Linked DNA regions of Homo sapiens. The protein of the gene in region 2 purifies or fractionates together with the protein of the main gene of each other region. This does not show direct contact. Each region holds a gene or a part of one and is shown on either strand. Other genes may lie near its edges.

What was found.
Region 1: the proteins of TRA2B (region 2) and DDX47 fractionate together in Homo sapiens (co-fractionation; one large-scale study listed by BioGRID). This does not show direct contact.
Region 3: the proteins of TRA2B (region 2) and SAFB fractionate together in Homo sapiens (co-fractionation; one large-scale study listed by BioGRID). This does not show direct contact.
Region 4: the proteins of TRA2B (region 2) and KDM4A purify together in Homo sapiens (affinity purification with mass spectrometry; one large-scale study listed by BioGRID and IntAct). This does not show direct contact.
Region 5: the proteins of TRA2B (region 2) and POC5 purify together in Homo sapiens (co-immunoprecipitation; one large-scale study listed by IntAct). This does not show direct contact.
Region 6: the proteins of TRA2B (region 2) and ODF2 purify together in Homo sapiens (co-immunoprecipitation; one large-scale study listed by IntAct). This does not show direct contact.

The regions. Positions count from the first base shown.
Region 1 is NC_000012.12:12,816,346-12,819,845, reverse strand, and holds part of DDX47 (probable ATP-dependent RNA helicase DDX47), read right to left. Parts: intron 1-3,500. UniProt on the Homo sapiens protein: Required for efficient ribosome biogenesis. May have a role in mRNA splicing. Involved in apoptosis.
Region 2 is NC_000003.12:185,917,537-185,921,014, forward strand, and holds part of TRA2B (transformer-2 protein homolog beta), read right to left. Parts: intron 1,961-3,478; coding exon 1,901-1,960; intron 903-1,900; coding exon 829-902; intron 190-828; coding exon 179-189; 3' UTR 1-178. UniProt on the Homo sapiens protein: Sequence-specific RNA-binding protein which participates in the control of pre-mRNA splicing. Can either activate or suppress exon inclusion. Acts additively with RBMX to promote exon 7 inclusion of the survival motor neuron SMN2.
Region 3 is NC_000019.10:5,640,083-5,643,582, reverse strand, and holds part of SAFB (scaffold attachment factor B1), read right to left. Parts: intron 1,990-3,500; coding exon 1,925-1,989; intron 1,844-1,924; coding exon 1,637-1,843; intron 1-1,636. UniProt on the Homo sapiens protein: Binds to scaffold/matrix attachment region (S/MAR) DNA and forms a molecular assembly point to allow the formation of a 'transcriptosomal' complex (consisting of SR proteins and RNA polymerase II) coupling transcription and RNA processing.
Region 4 is NC_000001.11:43,667,149-43,670,648, forward strand, and holds part of KDM4A (lysine-specific demethylase 4A), read left to right. Parts: intron 1-595; exon of another isoform or gene 596-623; coding exon 624-871; intron 872-1,951; coding exon 1,952-2,151; intron 2,152-3,500. UniProt on the Homo sapiens protein: Histone demethylase that specifically demethylates 'Lys-9' and 'Lys-36' residues of histone H3, thereby playing a central role in histone code. Does not demethylate histone H3 'Lys-4', H3 'Lys-27' nor H4 'Lys-20'.
Region 5 is NC_000005.10:75,673,624-75,676,530, reverse strand, and holds the end of POC5 (centrosomal protein POC5), read left to right. Parts: intron 1-1,952; coding exon 1,953-2,096; 3' UTR 2,097-2,407; downstream 2,408-2,907. UniProt on the Homo sapiens protein: Essential for the assembly of the distal half of centrioles, required for centriole elongation. Acts as a negative regulator of centriole elongation.
Region 6 is NC_000009.12:128,469,506-128,473,005, reverse strand, and holds part of ODF2 (outer dense fiber protein 2), read right to left. Parts: intron 1,699-3,500; coding exon 1,538-1,698; intron 94-1,537; coding exon 1-93. UniProt on the Homo sapiens protein: Seems to be a major component of sperm tail outer dense fibers (ODF).

The DNA.
Region 1 (3,500 bases), on a different chromosome or scaffold from region 2:
AGCACAGGAATGAGATTCAGAAACTAACAAAAGGAAATGTGGGTGACTCACACATTTTTAGTACGGGACACTCAAAAGCCAAAAACTGCAATATAGGCAACAGAAAAATTAGTCCTGGTGAGGAAAATAAGGACTTTGGTTTCCACACAGGGAACTTGGAACTTAAGATTCCTATAGTAAACTCAAAGAGATATGTCTAAAAACCAGTTGGACATACTTGTTTAGAGATATGTCTAAAAACCAGTTGGGCATAATTATTTGGAGGTATGTCTAAAAACCAGCTGGACATACTTGTTTGGAGCTCAGGAAAAAAGTGGGGGTTAGAACAGACATGGGAGCCATGAGTATCCTACCACTGGTACTTCCTCAGGGGCAGATGCTTCAGAATAATCGATGAGACTTACATATATATATATGCCCGGTCCCATGCCTGGAAATTCTGATTCAGTAGGTCTTGGCTGGGACCTAGAAATCTCTATTTAAAAAAAAAAAAAAAGCTCCATAGATGATTCTGAAGAATACAGACTCACTGATGCAGACAGGGTTTAAGCTTGAGGACTGAATGAGAAATGTTATGTAGTATTTCAGAGTAAGAAAAAAGGGTAAAGACAGAATCAATATTGTAAGGCAAAGGGAAAAGAACCAGAAGAAGAGACTGAGAAAGAACAGCTAGAAAGACAGAAGAAAATGCTGTCTTGAAATTAAGGAGGAAGGCAGCTTCAAGAAAGAAGAGTGATCAGTGGCGTTCAATGTCACTGATCAAGTAGAACAGACCTGTAAGATCCACCTCTTAAACATTAATCAGTTAAACCAGGATCTGCCATGCCAGATCAGACAACAGTGTGATATGGTTTGGCTGTGTCCCCACCCAATCTCATCTTGAGTCGTACTCCCATAATTTCCACATGTTGTGGGAAGGACCCAGTGGGAGATAATTTGAATCATGGAGGTGGTTTCCCCAATACTGTTCTCATGGTAGTGAATAAATCTCATGAGATCTGATGGTTTTATCAGGGGTTTCTGCTTTTGCATGTCTCTCATTTTCTCTTGCCGCCACCACGTAATAAGTGCCTTTCGCCTCCTGCCATGATTCTGGGGCCTCCACAGCCACACACAGAACTGTAAGTCCAATTAAACCTCTTTTTCTTCCCAGTCTCGGGTGTGTCTGTATCAGCAGTGTGAAAAAGGACTAACATACAGTGTATCCTAGTGAATTCTATTCTTTAGCCTTCTTTTCATTAACATCAGTGTTTTCCATTCAAAAGCATATGCACAGATGTGAAATACAAGTCAAACCAGACAATGGGACTGATTTTTTTTTTTTTTAGACAGAGTCTTGCTCTGTCACCCAGGCTGGGGTGCAGTGGCGAGATCTCGGCTCACTGCAAGCTCCGCCTCCTGGGTTCATGCCATTCCCCTGCCTCAGCCTCCCGAGTAGCTGGGACTACAGGTGCCCGTCACCACGCCCTGCTAATTTTTTGTATTTTTAGTAGAGACGGGGTTTCACCGTGTTAGCTGGGATGGTCTCGATCTCCTGACCTCGTGATCCACCCGCCTCGGCCTCCCAAAATGCTAGGATTACAGGCGTGAGCCACCACGCCCAGCCAATGGACTGATTTTTTTAAAGATTACAGACAAATGACAATCCAGGGATAAAATGTCTCACTCATCTACTTATTTTAATGTTCCCAGTGGCAGGGTAGGTAACAATGAATTGCAACAGCATCTACCTATCTGAGAAATAAAGGTCAGTGCAAGCAAATGATTCCCAAAGCTTTTTATTCCTCAACTCCTTGGGGATACTGCCGTCCCAGCCTGTGTAACACAATACACCTTCGGGAACAGCAGGCGGGGGAACTAGGATTTGTCCTTTTTTTGTCAAGGGAAATCTTAACATTTCAGAAGAAAGGAGTACATAAGAAAGATTTAGGGAAGTAAAGGAGCTGAAGTCGCTTAGTTCATGAAGCAATAAGCACTGCTCACTGCCTACAGCTGAGGCCTGCACTGCTTTCAGTTTTTTAGTAAGTCCCTCACAGCAACCCTCAGTTTGTGAAACTGATATATTTTTCTACGTCATCTCCTTTCTTCATCTCTGAAGAAACCGCTAAGCCTTTTCAGTGTTTATACCTGTAGAGAATATACCAGAATGCATAAACTCCATAAGAGCAGAATAGATTTTGTCATATAGACCTGCCACATTGCTGGCACCGAACATAAGCGCTTGCTATATGGCAGCCACTAATAAATTGTTTGAAATTCCTTGAGGACAACTTTAAGTGATCTCTGAAACAGACATAAATAGATGGTGTCTCAATGTGTTACCCAGGCAGGTCTCAAACTCCTGGTCTCAAGCAATCCTCCCACCTCAGCCTCCCAAAGTCCTCGGATTACAAGCATGAACCACCATGCCCATCAAACAACTTTTGATCTCTTGATAGTAACAAACTTTGATGCAGGTCCATTAATAGAGGTTTTTTGAGCTATAAGATTCTATGTTCAAATTCAGGCTCTAGCAATAATTAGTTAGGTGACCTTAGCCAAAGGACTTAACTCCCTGAGTCTCAATTTCCTCACTAATAAAATAATTATCCGTAACTACCATTCAGCATTGTTATAAGGTTTAAGAACAGCGGACAATCTGGGCTCAGTAACTTTGCAGAAACTGAAAACGTCAGTAGTCCCAAATTCAAATTTAGAAGTTATTTTCACCGAATAACAACAGCAACAAAAACAAACAGATTATTTGAATCATTTCTATAGATTCAAATGAAGCATTTATAAACTATTCATTAGAATGAGACAAACCCAAGAATAAGGATAAAGACATTTCTATGGTGATCATTTCTGTCAGTTCCTAGTAATCTTCCACTGACCCCTCCCTATTCTTTTCTGCATCAAATTTAAACTTATGGCTGAAAACATCAGAATAATTTTAGGATTACTGCCAGCTATTTTGACTCCTTCTCACCTACACTGTAGGGCAAGCTGGAAAAGTTAAAATGCATGAACGCTTCTTGCTATTTAAAAGTAACACTGGGCCGCTGATAGTTCTTTCCCACCACTGGCCTTTATACGGTCCTTATCCTCCAAACTTCTCTGCACAAGTTTGAAGTGTTTACTAATCCCTCCTTGAAACAGTTTCCCTTCCCTAATTTGTGTGAAACTATACTCTCATGATTTTCAACCCTCTATTGAATCTTCCAATTTTCCTCTGTCATCTTTGCCAATCTAATCCATTTCCAATCTCAGCTATAACCGCTCTTTGGATACAGTGTGTATATCCAGCTCTGGCCTCTCAATCAAGTTCCAATCCCAGGATTCCAACTGGGTATTTTTTTCCTTTTTTATTGTCCCCCAGTTTTGTTAATTGACAAAAAATTATACTTATGGTATACAATGCAAAGTTTAGATACATGTATACTTTGTGAAGTGATTAAATCAAGCTCATTAACATATCTGTCACCTCACATACTTGTCATTTTTGTGGGGAGACCATTTAA
Region 2 (3,478 bases):
CTACACAAATGCAGAATGAAAACAGCATTTCAACTCCACCAAAAGTAGTCATCGTAAAAGGTGTAAAAGTCACCTAACTTCACTAGGCACTGTTCACTTTTTAAACAAGAGACAATAAAAAATATTGCCCACAAACAATATCCCAGCTCTAGGGCAGGTTTCAGAAAGTCTTCATGCTTTAATAGCGACCTGGGAAGAAAAGAATGAACATGCTTTAATATTAAGTGAACTAATTATCAAGTATACTTTAATGCCGAGAATTTCAGAATATTCTGCCATTAAGAAATTCCTATGTGCCAGAACCCCACCACCCCCAAATAGAGAAAGACTTCCATGTAAGTATTACACCAGAAATGAGATAGCAATCTTAAATAACAGAAATTGCTGGGAAGTATATAACTCAATCTGAGAACTAAAGGGCTAAGTAATCCATGTTTCTGTGCTGTCCAAAAATTTTTAAGGACTCTTGAAAAGCTACTAAATGGTGGAAATACATTATTTACTGTTTCAATTAGAAACAACAGGAGTCTCTGAGCCTACTCTGGGTAAATGGTGGAAATACATTATTTACTATTTCAGTTAGAAACAACAGGAGTCTCCGAGCCTACTCTGGCTCAGGAGGCTGTCCAATTTTTCCTTCTTAAAAAATAATAGGATTCTAAGGGTTGTTTCCACAAACTTTCTTGAACCAAAAAATGTTCAGGATGTGTGGAGAATCATTAGGTATGAAACTACCTGAAACCAATCCATTATCTGATAAAGGGAATACACTGTCATCAGAGCAAGCCATACTACAATATAAACAATCATATTAAGATAAAAACTTACGAGGTGAGTATGATCGAGATCTGGAACGTGATCTGTATCCTCCACGACTATAGTAAGGAGAAGGTGACCGCCTTCTATAAACAAATGTCAAGATTGTCTAAGTCTCAATAGATCACAATTAGACCAAACATATAAATTTATGACTATATATACTGCCCTTTCATCAGTTCCCCAAAAAAGGAAAGCTGCATGAACCTTCAAGGTCTGTTTAAATCTTGAGAATGAAGCACATTATCAGGCCCAAGTGTCAAATAAGCACTCTTAATAACTTTAAGGTCAAATAATCCTTGCTATATTTTAATCTACTTACTTTTTAAATTTTGTGAACTATGTTAAGAGAGTTTTGTAAAAGAAAATTCCTGGCTGGGTGCGGTGGCTCAACGCCTATAATCCCAGCACTTTGGGAGGCCAAGGCAGGAGGATCACTTGAGGCCAGGAGTTTGACCAGCCTGACCAACATGGTGAAAACCTGTCTCTACTAAAAAAAAAAAATTAGCTCTGTGCGGTGGTGCATGCTTGTAATCCCAGCTACTCGGGATGCAGAGACTGCAGTGAGCTCAAATTGCTCCACTGTACTCCAGCCTAGGCAACAGAGCAACACTCTGTCTCCAAAAATTAAAAATAAAAATGAGAAAATTCCCATACCATTAAATAATCCCAACAGCACCCTCTTGAACACCCAAAACTAATTTCACAAGTGCTTCAGGATTTAGCTTTGTGTTAAAAAGGCTGGCTTGAATGTTCTTGTGCTATTTGAGATGCTTACTTTTAAAAAGCAAGGAAAATGTAATACAAGAACATAATGACAAAAAAAATGAGTTATCAGTGACTAACATCACTGTACCTCATCACGGTATAAAATGGTATCACTAAATAATCTATTGCAAAACCAATTAATTTTTATAAATATACAAAGACTTTATACATTTAGTTTCCGTTAGAATATTTTCATGAGCTTCAAACAGTCTGATTTTGGGTATTCCACTTATAATTTACCAAAACATTACTAGGCAAACATCTTTATGTGAAGCTTTATACTGTTGTACAGATGCTAAGTCCTCTCCTGGCATACCTATAAATCTGATCCCTGTCTTGGGCAGCTCTCCATCCTCCTCCTCCTCCACCTCCTCCTCTGTGAAGACAGAAAGGCAACACAACACGCATTCAGTTTGTAAGTTTTAAAAAATTATGTCATTCATTTAGTAAAATAAAAACTTTCATAGAGCATGAATGAGATGTTTCTTGCAGGTCAAGTGATTTGCCACCCTTTTTAGAAACTGGCATAGGGTTCTCTCTGGTGGCTGAAATAAGTAGTATTAGAACACAGAACATTCCTAAGTAAATGCTCTTAAAAAAAAAAATCAAACTAAGAAAAAAATCTCAGCCCCAACAAATTTGTACCTTTAGTACCATTCAATAGAGTGATGCTTTAAATAAAAAAAGGGTTTTCATGGGTGATAAAATGCTGAACAATACACTTACAGACTCACTTTCAGACAATGACTGACAACTGTTAACTTCTTAAACATTGCCAAATAATGCACAAAATAGACATCCATATACCTCAATACCATTATCAATGACAACTGTGGTCAATACTTACTAACTACATTATTTGACTTGTCAAATTACACATTTTGACAAGGGAGGACCAAAATGTCACAATTTTACTTCATTTTTATCTTTGGAAGTATTCTCAAAGATATCTTTATTTTTAAACTATGATTGACATTTCCCTACCCAAACCCCGAAATACCAAATTTTTGGCAAAAATAAAAAGCCACATACCCTTGTCATACTAAATTAACATCTTTAAAATTATTCTCTGGACTCTTTCAAGGCATCCATTTTACCTGCCCTCAGTGTACGATGCATGCATTAAGAGATTACAAGAAACTGCCTGAAAAGTGTTGGCTTTCCAAAATGGCTTATGAAATTTGCTTTTATAAGCCATTATAAATTTGCTTTTAAAAGGCTAAGACAGAGGCTATAATTTTTTCTTTTAAGGTGGGGTCTTGCTCTGGGGGAGGAGACTCAGGTGGGAGCGTACTTGGCTCACTGCAGCTTCAACCTCCCCGGCTTCCTGCCTCATTTTTTGTGGAGGTTCCCTATGCTGCTCAGGCTGGTCTCAAATTCCCGGGCTCAAGCAATTCCCCTGCCTCAGCCTATAATTTTGCTTTCACTATGTATTCATTTATTTATTTTTTTTTTTGAGTCTCTCGCTCTGTTGCCTACAGTGGAGTGCAGTGGTGCAATCTAAATTCACTGCAACCTCTGCCTGCCGGGTTCAAGCAATTCACCTGCCAGTAGCTGGGACTACAGGCGTGCACCACCACAACCGGCTAAATTTTTATTTCTGGTAGAGACGGGGTTCACCATGTTGGCCAGGCTGGATCTCAGGTGATCTGCCTGCCTTGGCCTCCTGAAGTGTTGGGATTACAGGCGTGAGCTACTGCGCCTGGCCTCATTCAATGTTTAAAAATAAAACACATTTTATTATTAATATTCCAAGTTATCATTTAAATCCCATTTATATTCTAGAATATTTGAACAGAAATCCAGTTACACATTAAATTGATTAAGACACAGAACCTTAGAATCTGATTTAACTTTCTACTCTGCATTTCTCGAGTAAAAGTACTAAAGCAAA
Region 3 (3,500 bases), on a different chromosome or scaffold from region 2:
TCAGGAAGGGTAAGTAACTCCTGCTGCTGTGCAAGTGTTTCTGCTACTCCTTTTTAGAAGCTGATGAATGGGACTCACCAAAAATTGCACACCCTATTTGTATCAGAATAACTCTCAGCCACTTCTCAGACTCAAATCCTCCATTCAAATATGACAATCTGCTACCTCTAAGGATACTTGGAATCAGTTCCAAGAGGAAATGCAAAAATATTCTGAAGAAATGCAGAAGCGGATTGACTGGCATACAACAAGGTTTCTGTCCACCAAGACTGCTTGAGAAGCACTCACTGCGGAAGACCTAAGGACCAGGACAAGAACAGGGCCCCCCACGAGCCAACACAGAAAGGGCCCCACAGCTTCTCATATGCATCACTTTTTCTGTCTGACAAACATTAATCATCAGGTAAATGAAATTAATATCAAATTAATGGCACCAAGACAACATCGTACATAAGTTAAGTACATGGCCTCTGGAATTAGCCTGATCTTAGTTCTTATTCTGTTATGAGCTGTGTGTCATCTGGAGATGTTTTTTAGTTCTTGCCTTCCCAATTTCCTCAACTGAAAATGGGGACAACAGCACCTCATGTTGCTATTAGAAGAATTAAAGGGCACATGCTGGGCGCGGTGGCTCACACCTGTAATCTCAGCACTTTGGGAGTCTGAGGCAGGCGGATCACCTGAGGTCAAGAGTTCAAAACCAGCCTGGCCAACATGGTGAAAACCGTCTCTACTAAAGATACAAGAAAATTAGTCGGGCTTGGTGGTGGGCGCCTATAATCCCAGCTACTCACTTGGGAGGCTGAGGGAGGAGATCACTTGAACCCAGGGGGCAGAGGTTGCAGTGAGCTGAGATCGCGCCACTGCACTCCAGCCTGGGCAACAACAGCAAAACTCTGTCTCAGAAAAAAAAAAAAAAAAAAAAAAAAAAGAAAGGAAGGGCATAATGCCAATGCCTGGTAGGTAGTATTCAGGAAATACTACCCACTATAATCTTACTATCCATTTGATATGTTTCTAACAGGAAAAAAATTTAGGTTTAAAAACAACATCCAGGTTAATACTTGAGGTTAACTCTTAAGATAGGTATCAACTGGCTGTGTTTTTTTTTTTGTTTGTTTGTTTTAAACAAGAGATAGGGTTCTGTCAGACTCTGCCACCCAGGCTGGACTTCAATTGCACAATCATAGCTTAGTACAGCCTTGAACTCCTGGGCTGCTCCTTCCACCTCAGCTTTCTGAGTTACCGGATTACATGAGTGCATCAAGGCACCCAGCTCAACAATTGCTTCTTAACAGGAAAACACCAACTTCTAACCTCTTCCTAGTTCAATGCTTTCAAGGTACCTAGGCCATAACACCACAGATCAAGTCCGGCAACAGGAAGAGTCTGAATGGTTGTCCTCAAAATGTCTCATACTGTATGCCGCAAATGGATAGCAAGTACATATGAAATGTTATAAGACATCACCTTTCAACAAAACAAATTGGTTCAGAATCATCTGAACCAACTGACCCTTATTCTACTGAACTGGCATTACAGAACAACTTACTTCCCAATATGAAACTGATCACCTATTTTAATTGTGGAACTGATACATTCAGGGCACATTCTAGAGACATTGCCGGTTACCTACAGCATGTTCCTGAAGCTGCTCCGGAAGCTCTTTCATTTCCCCCTCGACTAGCTCTCTACTATCCGACAGGGACTCCTGGAGGTTATCAGCATCATCGTCTTCGACACAATCTGCAACGCTTCCATTATCAATTTCTGCTTCATCCAACACACTGATATCCATGATGTCGATGTCCTGCAAGTTCTCCAGACTGGTCTCAACATCCTCCTGTGACACAACCAGACCGAACCATCATGTGACCGCCACTGGTCCATCCACCACGCTACTCACTCGCAAGGCTGCACATACCTGTCCATCCCCAGAGTTTTCCTCCAGCCCGTTATCTTCCACACCCTCTTCTTCTGGTTTGCGCCCTGAAGACAGAATCATTTACAGCATGAGATCAAATGATACGCACTTTACAGAAGCAACAATGCCCTGAGCACTACACAAGTGGTCACTTTATAAACATCTGAGACACCTCACTACTTAGGAACACTTCCTAATCCAGGAATGAGGCCATTCCGCACAAGACAGCCCTGCCCCACCCCCAAGCAGAAGAGGTTCTGTTCTTGTCTGAGCTGTGGAAGTAGAAGTGCAGAAAACAGGTTCTTAGTAAAGTTGAACAGGATCAGACCTGTCCTCAGCTCTGCCCTTCTTCCTATCCCAAGTGTCCTTGTTTGAGGGAAAAATTATTTGTTGCAAATGTGCTGCCTTTTAGTTAAGGAACATGTTTTCCCACAGAAACTGCGCATGCCCGAGTATGCACATTTTTAATGCTTAAAAAGAAAAAAGAAGGGCCGGATGCGATGGCTTACGCCTGTAATCCCAGCACTTTGGGAGGCCTAGGCGGGCGGATCACCTGAGGTCAGGAGTTCGAGACCAGCCTGGAAAACATGGTGAAACCCCGTCTCTACTAAAAATACAGGACAATCACTTGAACCCAGGAGGCGGAGGTTGCACTGAGCCGAGACTGCGCCACTGCACTCCAGCCTGGGCAACAAGAGCGAAACTCGGTTAAAAAAAAAAAAAAAAGAAAAACAAAAAACCCACATACTATCAAGATACTCCAGAGGGGCTGGGCACGGTGGCTCATGCCTGTTAAGTCCAGCACATTAGGAGGCCGAGACAGGTGGATCACTTGAGGTCAGGAGTTTGACACCAGCCTGGCCAACCTGACGAAACCCTGTCTCAACTAAAAATACAAAAAACTAGCTGGTTGTGGTGGCGGTTGCCAGTAATCTCAGCTACTCAGGAGGCGGAGGCAGGAAAATCGCTTGAACTCTGGAGGTTTAGGTTGCAGTGAGCTGAGATCGTGCCGCTGCACTCCAGCCTGGATGACAGAGCAAGACTCTGTCTCAAAAACAAAACAAAACAAAACAAAAATTGCAGAGGAAGGTTTTTTTTTAACTTATACATTTCCATCAACAGCGAATTAAAAAGTGCCAATCTCGTGCACTTGTAGTCCCAGCCACTCGGGAGGCTGAGGCAGGAGAATCGCTTGAATCCGGGAGGCAGAGGTTGCAGTTAGCCGAGATCACACCACTGCACTCCAGTCTGGCAACAGAGCGAGACTCCATCTCCAGAAAAAAAAAAAAAAAAAAAAAAAGCCAATCTTTCTTGAATCTCTGTTAAAAATTTGCTATTTTTCTTTATCTTTGCCAATATGCTAGGTAAGAAAAGGAATACTGTTTTAACACGAATTTATCTCCTGACTACTCAAATTGCTTTGAATCATTTGCTTTTTGTTGTTGATCACCTGTACTTTTCTAAAAATTTCTGATTTACACCCCACTATTTAAAAACTTCGGCTCCAGCCAGGCGCGGTGGCTCACGCCTGTAATCCCAGCACTTGGGAGGCCGAGGCAGGCGGATCACCTGAGGT
Region 4 (3,500 bases), on a different chromosome or scaffold from region 2:
AGATACGTTGGCTGGTGATTAGAGTATTTCTTTGAGCTGCTGGAATTCAGAAACAAGCAGCTAGCAATGTGTCAGAGTACTAACATTTTGTGTTCATAAGGAATTTTTAAAAATGTGTTCAGAATTGGGAAGTATAAAATGAGGTTCTTAAGTCCATTAGGCATTAAAACCACATCCACACACGTTAATACTCTTGTTTATCCATTCCGAGATTTCTCTGTTGAAATTTTTAGGGGTTTCCTTTACTCTAGGGAAGCAGCAGGGTCGGGCCTTTGACTGATAGTAGTAGACTTGCTTGTGTGTTCCTGGCTTGGACAGGGAACAAGGGCAGGTGGCTCACCGTCCTGGGGGCCTAAGTGCAGAGCCTAACCACCCTCTGTGACCCCGAGTTAGTGCCCAGGTAGATTTGCCCCAGTAGCATGTGCTCTCTGCCTTTTTTTCCCTGCTTCCCTTCATGTTTGAAGGTCCTGCAAGGATAACATGCCCTCAGCCTGTGAACCAAAACAATCTGGTTATAAACCATCTTGCACTTGTTTCCATGTGGAGGGAGGAGCTAGGACGTGGGGGTGAGTTGGAAGCAGCAAGGTATGCTCACCTGGTGCTCTTCTGGTTCCTGCTGACAGTGCTCCTGTAGAAAGGACATGGTGAAGATCTCCATGGATGTGTTTGTGAGAAAGTTCCAGCCAGAAAGGTACAAACTTTGGAAAGCTGGGAAGGACAACACAGTTATTGACCATACTCTGCCCACGCCAGAAGCAGCTGAGTTTCTTAAGGAGAGTGAACTGCCTCCAAGAGCTGGCAACGAGGAGGAGTGCCCAGAGGAGGACATGGAAGGGGTGGAGGATGGAGAGGAAGGAGACCTGAAGACAAGGTAACCCAGCAGCCCTTTTGTCCTGGCTGCGTGAGGGAGGGATGTCTGGGTAGGTCCTGTAATCTGTGGAGAGGCTGTTTCTTGTTTTTTTTGTTTTGTTTTGTTTTTGTTTTTGTTTTTGTTTTTGATGGAGTCTCGCTCTGTCGCCCAGGCTGGAGTGCAGTGGTGCGATCTCGGCTCACTGCAAGCCCCGCCTCCCGGGTTCAGGCCATTCTTCTGCCTCAGCCTCCCGAGTAGCTGGGACTACAGGCACCTACAGCCACGCCTGGCTAATTTTTTGTATTTTTAGTAGAGACAGGGTTTCACTGTGTTAGCCAGGACGGTCTCGATCTCCTGACCTCGTGATCCGCCCACCTCGGCCTCCCAAAGTGCTGGGATTACAGGTGTGAGCCACCGCGCCCGGCCGAGGCTGTTTCTAAGATGCCGTTTGTGCCTTGGCTAAGGGAGTGTTCTTGGTAAAGGCTCCAGAAACCTGAGAGCCAGAGCATTCAGGCACTTTCTGAATGAGAGACCTGTAGTGGGCGTGTAGTCTGCTGGAGCAAGGCGTCAGTTATATGAGGGTCGGGGGCATTTATGTGCGAAGGTCGGGCTCCCTCTGAGCCAGAAAAGTCATGTTTTCTCATCATATCAGAGAGTCTTTTAAAAAGAAGTGTAGTGAGGATGAGACTCAAGGGCATTGGTAATGTCGTGATTTAAGTCTGCAGTGCTATTGGTGGCTGAGCCAGGGGATCTGTGCTCTGAGGAGAATTTATCCTGGGCCATATGGGAAAGAAAGGAGGAACCGTTCCTTGGTACCTGCTATATGCCAGGCACTTTGCCAGCTACTCTGCATACCTTTTCTTAATCCTCACAACAAATCTGTTAGGTGGGTGGTAATACCTGTATTTTCCAGATGATTGAACAAGGTCAGAGAGGTGAAGTCCCTTGTCTCAAGTCACAAATAAGAGGTGTCCCTGAGTTTTGAGCCAGGCCTGACAGGCTCTGGCCATTCACTTTGGGTTGTGTGTGGATGTGTATGAATGTGTTTGAGTAAGTGGATGTATATGTGGGCTCTTAAAAGATTTGCCCTCTCCCTTGCAGCCTGGCCAAGCACCGAATAGGGACAAAGAGGCACCGAGTTTGTCTTGAAATACCACAGGAGGTGAGTCAGAGTGAGCTCTTCCCCAAGGAGGATCTGAGTTCTGAGCAGTATGAGATGACGGAGTGCCCGGCAGCCCTCGCCCCTGTGAGGCCCACCCATAGCTCTGTGCGGCAAGTTGAGGATGGTCTTACCTTCCCAGGTTAGTTGACTATGGTGTATTTTCCACAACCCTAACTCATATATGTGTCCCGTGTTAGATGCCATATTGAGTGCTGGGTCAGAAATAAAAAAGGCAGAGTGACAGGTCCGTGAGCAGATAGCATACTTGGAGTGTGAGAAGTGCTTTGGGTAGGGATGTACAGGGAGGACTGGACACGTAGGGAAAAGCTCCTCCCTCTGCCTGGTCAGGGGTCAGGGAAACACTGGAGGTTTTGGTGAAGGTGACTCTTACAAGGTAAGTAGGACCTTCCCAGGCGGACAGAGAGAGAGGAGGGATGTAGAAAGGGAGTCCCAGATGGGAGGAGCAGGGCACAGGCATGGAGATGGGAATTTTTTTTTTTTTTTTTGAAATGGAGTCTTGCTCTGTCATGCAGGCTGGAGTGCAGGGGCGCAATCTTGGCTCACTGCAACTTCTGCCTCCTGGGTTCAAGCGATTCTCCTGCCTCAGCCTTCCAACTAGCTAGGACTACAGGTGCCTGCCACCATGCCTGGCTAATTTTTTTTTGTATTTTTAGTAGCGATGGGGTTTCACCGTGTTGGCCAGGCTGATCTTGAACTCCTGACCTCAGGTGATCCGCCTGCCTCGGCCTCCCAAAATGCCAAGTGGGATTACAGGCGTGAGCCACTGTTCCCAGCAGAGATGGGAAATATTAATAGCATGGTCCACTTGGGGGAACTGGTGGGGAGTTTCCCTCAATTGAATATTAGGGTGGAAGGCAGCTGTGTGACCAGAAGGTGACGCTGGAGAAATAGGAGATGATGTAGGGCTGTCTGCCATTTTCATTTGCTCACTTGGAAGCTTAAGAAGCCATTTATATTTTAAGAGAGGGAGTGGTGTGATCAGTGCTGTTTAGCAGTCACTTGGAAGGTCATTGAGGCTAGATTTGTTAGAGAAAGGCTTGTATCTGTCTTGGGTCAGGTATGACCCAAAGATGTGGTCTGCCGACAGCCAGGCAGCACTGTGGACTGACACCCTGGGCTGGGCTGGCTTCTCTTCAGCAGATTTTCTTTCCCTTTTTTCTCTTCAAATTTATTTATTTATATTGACAGATAAAATCGTGCATATTTGTCTTGTACAACATAATTTTTTTGTTTGTTTTAGAAACGGGGTCTTACTGTGTTGCCCAAGCCTTTGTGAACACAGCTCACTGCAGCCTCAACTTTCTGGGCTCAAGCAATCCTCTTGCCTCAGCCTCTCAAGTAGGTGGGACTACAGGCATACACCACGCCTGGCTAATTTTTTTTTTTTTTTTTTTTTTTTTGAGACGGAGTCTCACTCTGTCTCCCAGGCTGGAGTGCAAAGGCATGATCTTGGCTCACTGCAACCTC
Region 5 (2,907 bases), on a different chromosome or scaffold from region 2:
TAGATGATTAAATGAAGACAAGCTGGATTGATTTGAACTGAACTTCAGGTGAAGTGGGACCTTAGCGAGGTGGAAGGCTGGAGATAGAAGCACCAAGTCCAGATAGAGACATGGAGATGACAGAGGATTTATTTTAGAATTATCTTAGGTTTCATGTTTCATAAGTTGGACAGACTCTGAAAGTTCGTAGAAGACTTTTCTATATATTTTTGAATATGGAAGACAAGTTATCAAAAATGAGAAGAAATAAACCCACTTCTGTTTTTTCAGATGTAGAAAATGTATAGAGATGGTGAGAGACTGTCCATTTGTGAGGTAAAGAAGGTGTAAAGAGAGCACATGTGTGTTTATTTTTTATTAGACAAGCTTTTGTTTTGTAGTAATGATGGGAATTCATATTTTACAGAAGAAAAATCAAAGTACTAAACATTTAGAACCCTTGTTTCTGATACTTATCTCCCATGCTGCCCTCCCTTTATTCAGTATGTGCATTTCTTACCCACTAACTGTGTATGAACCAGATAGCCATCAGCTGCCTGGATTATGTGACAGACACAGTGGCAGTCATTTGTACTGTATTTCTTTTCACCCTGGGAATCAAGATCTAAATCTACCAGAAATAGTTATTACTAAAAAACCAAGGATGCGATTTGTGACACTGTAGCCTCATCTGCTGGGTAACTGCATGCTTCTAGGGCCACTTCATTCTCTGTCATATTTTGTGTATCATAATTTCAGTGGCTACTTTATTTCTACAGTTCCTCTTGCCCATCCTCCTCAAGGAGAAAGCCTTTTTGGCAGGCTCAGGTTAGTGGCTGGCAACTAATTAGGTGACTGGCAACTAAAATTTCTTATCTGTTGCAAGAGTATCTCCTATTTATAATGGTTATCCAGTTGTTTATGTACAAATAAACGTTTTTATAAGATACTTTAAGAAAAGAAGTTATTTTTCTTTAAAAAGGAGTTCTGTTCTTTTTAAAATGGAATCTGACAGGATCTTTTGTTTTTAAGAAGTTTCATTCTTTTTTTAAGCAAAAACTACAGCTTGGAGTTTTTTAAATACATAGTGAATGTTTTGACCAAATACATGTAATTTTACTTAAACTATTTTAACAATGACTTTTCTAAGTGGAAGACCCTAATAGAAATTGACATGTCCTAGTCAGTGATATGGACTGAGAACTTGATAACAAATCCCACTGCTGGCTACTAAGAAGCTTTATCGGGTTTAATAGGGAAAAGCCTTGTACTGATACATATTGTTCATGTTTACATGTAAATGTGTACTTGTATACATAGTGTGTACTTACATGCATTACATGCATATTATGTGTGTCAAGTAAGTCACGTGTGTCCTGACTTTAATGACTCAGTGCTCATGTCTGAGGTGTTCCTTTGAGCTCTGAGGTGATGTGCATAAAAGTTTTAGTCTGCTCCCAGGTGAACCAGGTTAAATATGAGGGCTCTGGTTTAAAGCAAGGACCAGACTGCATCCTGAGGGCTTCCGTGTGCCCCTGGGATTGTGAGATAATCACATCCACATACTAACAGTCAAGTAGAGAGAAGGAAGTTGGATGGAATGAGGGGAGGACTCAGGGCTGACCCCTCTTCCAGACACCACAGAGTTTCTCTCTGTATACAAAGCCTCTGTACACATTACAAGATTCCACTTGGCCCTGTTGGAGGAATGGCTGCCGTGGCTTTCTTAATGAGCCTTGTGGATATAGCTCTGATATTACACTGTGGGTGTTGAACATGTCAGTCAGACTGGGTAGGGGTTCCTTACAGACAAAGGCCTCATCTAATTAACAGCTGCTTCACTCCACTCATTGCTTCTTTCTACTGGATCTTAACAAATGTTTATTGGGTTAAATTATAGATGATAGATGATGAAATGATACATAGTATACATAATCTTGGGATATTATTAAAGCAGAATTTTGTCTTTTCAGCAAACCATTCCTCAAGCAACTGCAGCAAAATATCCCCGGACCATTCATCCTGAAAGTAGTACCTCAGCTTCCAGATCACTTGGAACCAGATCAGCTCACACCCAGTCTCTCACAAGTGTTCATTCCATAAAAGTGGTTGACTAAAGTGAATATGTCCATAGTGGGGTCTTTTAATCCCTCTGGTCTTACCAAGGGTTAGAAGTCTTTTGGTTTTAACTTTTCCATATTGTTAGAACATCATGGAGACATCATGTTCATCTGTTCAAAATTACAAGAGGCTTTTTCAAGCTCTACCATGCTTTGTAACTATATGTAGAAATTATTTTAATGTTATTTTTTATTTAAGCAATTAAGTAAAACTTTTTTAAATTAAAAAAGAAACTGGACTTTATTTCTTTAATATGTTTAGCCTGTTGCTGATTACAGCATCAAAATATATAAATTTATTTTCACTATTTATAAAACACTAAATCATTTCCAATATTACACAGCTGTAATTCACTCAAAGTGTTGAGAGGGAACCTTACTAAAAACAAAGTATTAGAACTAGTGGAAACTAGGATATTTTTATTTTTAATTTAAAAAAGACCAAGTGTAATAATGATTTTTTTTTTTTTTTTTTTTGAGACAGAGTCTCGCTCTGTCACCCAGGTTGGAATGCAATGGTGTGACCTCGGCTCACTGCCTCCTCCTCCCATGTTCAAGCAATTCTCCTGCCCCAGCCTCCCGAGTATCTGGGATTACAAGTGCCAGCCACCATGCCCGGCTAATTTTTGTATCTTTTTTTAGTAGAGACAAGGTTTCATCATGTTGGCCAGGCTGGTCCCGAATTCCTGACCTCAAGTGATCCGCCCGCCTGAGCCTCCCAAAGTGCTGGGATTACAGGCATGAGCCACCACGCGCGGCCCCGTTTTTTGTGGCTTTAACATGTTAGTCTTCATTTTTCCAGGACTCT
Region 6 (3,500 bases), on a different chromosome or scaffold from region 2:
ACCTGCTTGGCAGCCGCAGCCCCATCCATTTCCGCCTCCACCAGCTTGGACATGAGGCACTCCTTCTCCTGTTGTAGGTGTTTCTTCTGAAGTCTGGGGCCAGAAAGACGGCTCTGTGAGCCCTCCCAGGCCCCCGCATGCCCAGAGATCCAAGGCTTGCCTCACAATGCCCTAGGGGGCTCACCTCTGGTCAGGGAAAAGTAGGGGAGGGGGCAGGGACAGCCCTTCTGGCCTGGGTGGCCTTCAGAAAGGACCAGGGCCAGAAGTTACATCTGCCTGGGCACCAGACCAGGGCCTCCACACCAGGAGACATTAGCTACCTGTGGCCCTGTTTCTCTCAAACAGCCACCATTGTCATCTCTGCACTGCCCCCCTCCACTGTCACGCCCTCCTACGCACCATCTTCAGATACGATTTTGAGCCCTTCTACCTCTTCTCTACACTGCAGCCAAGGCTAGTCAGGCCACCTCCCTGCTTTTAAAACTTCCATGGCTGTAGGCTGGATACAGTGGCTAAAGCCTGTAATCCCAGCACTTTGGGAAGCCGAGGTGGGCAGATCACTTGAGATCAGGTGTTATCGAGAGCAGCCTGGCCAACAGCTAAAACCCCATCTCTACTAAAAATACAAAAGTTAGCCGGGCATGGTAGTGGGCACCTGTAATTCCAGTTACTTGGGAGGCTGAGGCAGGAGGATTACTTTAGTCAAGGAGGCGGACATTGCAGTGAGCCAGGATCACGCCACTGCACTCCAGCCTGGATGACAGAGCGAGACTCCATCTCAAAAATTTTGAGATGCCTCCCAGGATCAAGCAGTTCTCCTGCCTCAGCCTCCAGAGTAGCTAGGATTATAGGCGCCCGCCGCGACGCCCGGCTTAATTTTTGTATTTTTAGTAGAGACAGGGTTTCACCATGTTGGCCAGGCTGGTCTCGAACTCCTGACCTTGTGATTTGCCCGCCTTGGCTCCCAAAGGGCTGGGATTACAGGCGTGAGCCACCACGCCCGGCCAAATAAATTAATTAAATAAAATAAATCCTTTCCATGGCTTCCAAATGCCCTCAATGCAAATGCCTCAAAGTGGCTGCTGAGAGCCAGCCCCCTGCCAACCTATGTGGCCCCCTTATCCTCTGCCCACCCACTCTGGCCTGCCTTCCATTTCTCAGCTACAAACACTTTCCCACCTTGGGGCCTTCGCATAAGATGTTCCCACTGAGTAGCGTGCTTTCTTCCCTAGCACCCACCTGCCGAATGCTTAACCATCCTGCAGGACACCCCTTAAATATCACTTGTTCCAGAAACAGTTCCCTGCTACCCAGTCCCACACCACAATCCACGGGGTCCTCCCTTTCCCTCATAGTACAAATCATAAGCACAACCAGGTAATTAACTGTAATTAATTGTGTGACTGTTGAACAGGCTCCAGGGCACAGGCACAGTGCCTGTGCCCACCTCCTACGTTGCTTTCCATTATTGCCCAGGGCTCAAGGCAGCCTGGTAGGGAGGAATAGATCAGCGGGGACAGAGCAGGAGCCACCTTACATGGTGAAGTCCTTCTCCTCCTTCATGCGCTCGATGTTGTGCCTCAACACCGTGTTCTCGTGCTCAGTCTCAGCCAGTTCGTGGGCCACCTCCTCCAGCTCTTCCTTCCGTTCCTCCAGGAACCTTTTGGCCATCTGGCGCTCACCTTTTTGCATCTTGACCTGAGCAGGGGGACCCAGGCAGGGGCCACTGAAGGGAGGTCCTTCCTCTATGCCACATTGCTAGGCTCAATGCTTTGGACCAAAATAAGGCCCCGGCCGGGCGTGGTGGCTCACGCCTGTAATCCCAGCACTTTGGGAGGCCAAGGTGGGTAGGTCACTTTTGGTCAGGAGTTCGAGACCAGCCTGACCAACATGGTGAAACCCCATCTCTACTGAAAATACAAAAATTAGCCAGATGTGGTGGCACATGCCTGTGATCCCAGCTACTCTGGAAGCTGAAGCAAGAGAGTCGCCTGAACCCAGGAGCCAGAGGTTGCAGTGAGCCGAGATCGTGCCCACTGCACTCCAGCCTGGGCGGACAAGAGTGAGACTCCATCTCAAAAAAAAAAAAACAAAAACAAAAAAATAAGGAGCCTTCCAATTGAGAACTACACAGGCTGCATGCCAGGGCCTTATGGGTGCAATCTCAGTTAACTGCCATGAAGACTGACTCTCCTGGGAGATGCTGATTTTCTTTTTGTAGATGAGGAAACTCAGTACAGAGAGCCCCAGTGACTTGTGGGTTGGGAACGAAGCCAGGTTGCAAACCGTGGTTTGGCTGGCACACCATAGGAGGAGAGATGTCACAAAAAGGCTCTTGCACTTTGAGTTATAGGGGAAGAAGGGCTTTTTTTTTTTTTCTTTTGAAACAGGGTCTCACTCTGTCATCCAGGCTGGAGTGCAGCGGTACGATCTCAGCTCACTGCAACCTCTGCCTCCTGGGTTCAAGTGATTCTTCTGCCTCAGCCTCCCAAGTAGCCGGGATTACAGGCGTGTGCCTGGCAAATTTTTGTATTTTTAGTAGAGATGGGGTTTCACCATGTTGGCCAGGCTGGTCTTGAACTCCTGACCTCAAGTGATCTGCCCTCCTCAGTCTCCCAAAGTGCTAGGATTATAGGCATGAGCCACCACGCCTGGCCAAGAAGGGCCTATTCTAGGCAGCCAGCCCTAGGTTCTCCAGGAGGTTCCCTGGACCTCGAGTACAGGGTGGAGGATTAAAGACACAGGTCGTGTTAGCAGTGAAGACATAGGCTGACATAGCAATCCAAGTCTAAGGCCTGGATTTTAATGACAACTCTGCCAATTTCCTAGTTGGGGACCTTGGACTTCCAGGTTCTATTTCCAATTCCATTGTCACATCCCACCCCAAGAGAGAGCACGGCAACTGAGGACAAACTTCCTTGGCCTCTTTGGGGCTTTGTTTTTGTTAATTTTTTTATTTATATATATATATATATATATATATATATTTTTTTTTTTTTTTTTTTTTTTTTTTTTTTTTTTTGAGACAGAGACTCTCTCTGTCGCCCAGGCTACAGTGCAATGGCACAATCTCAGCTCACTGCAACCTCTGGCTCCTGGGTTCAAGCAATTCTACCACCTCAGCCTCCTGAGCAGCTGAGACTACAGGTGCACGCCACCACGCATGGCTAATTTTTGTTTTTTAGTAGAGACAGGGTTTCACCGTGTTGGTCAGGCTGGTCTCGAACTCCTGACCTCAGGGGATCCGCCTCCCAAAGTGCTGGGATTACAGGCGTGAGCCACCATGCCCGGCCTGTTTTTGTTAAACCTTATATAAAGCGGAAGGCATAGGCCCTAGTTTCCTAGGTATTTCATCTCTGTAATGAGGACAGTAACACCACTGGCTTCACATGCTGTTGTAAAAATTCAAATTGGACCACCCATGTGGAGCACCAGGACAGCTACATGCTCAATAGAGAGGGCCCTTGTTGGTGGGATGGGATCCCATGCTGCCCCAGCTA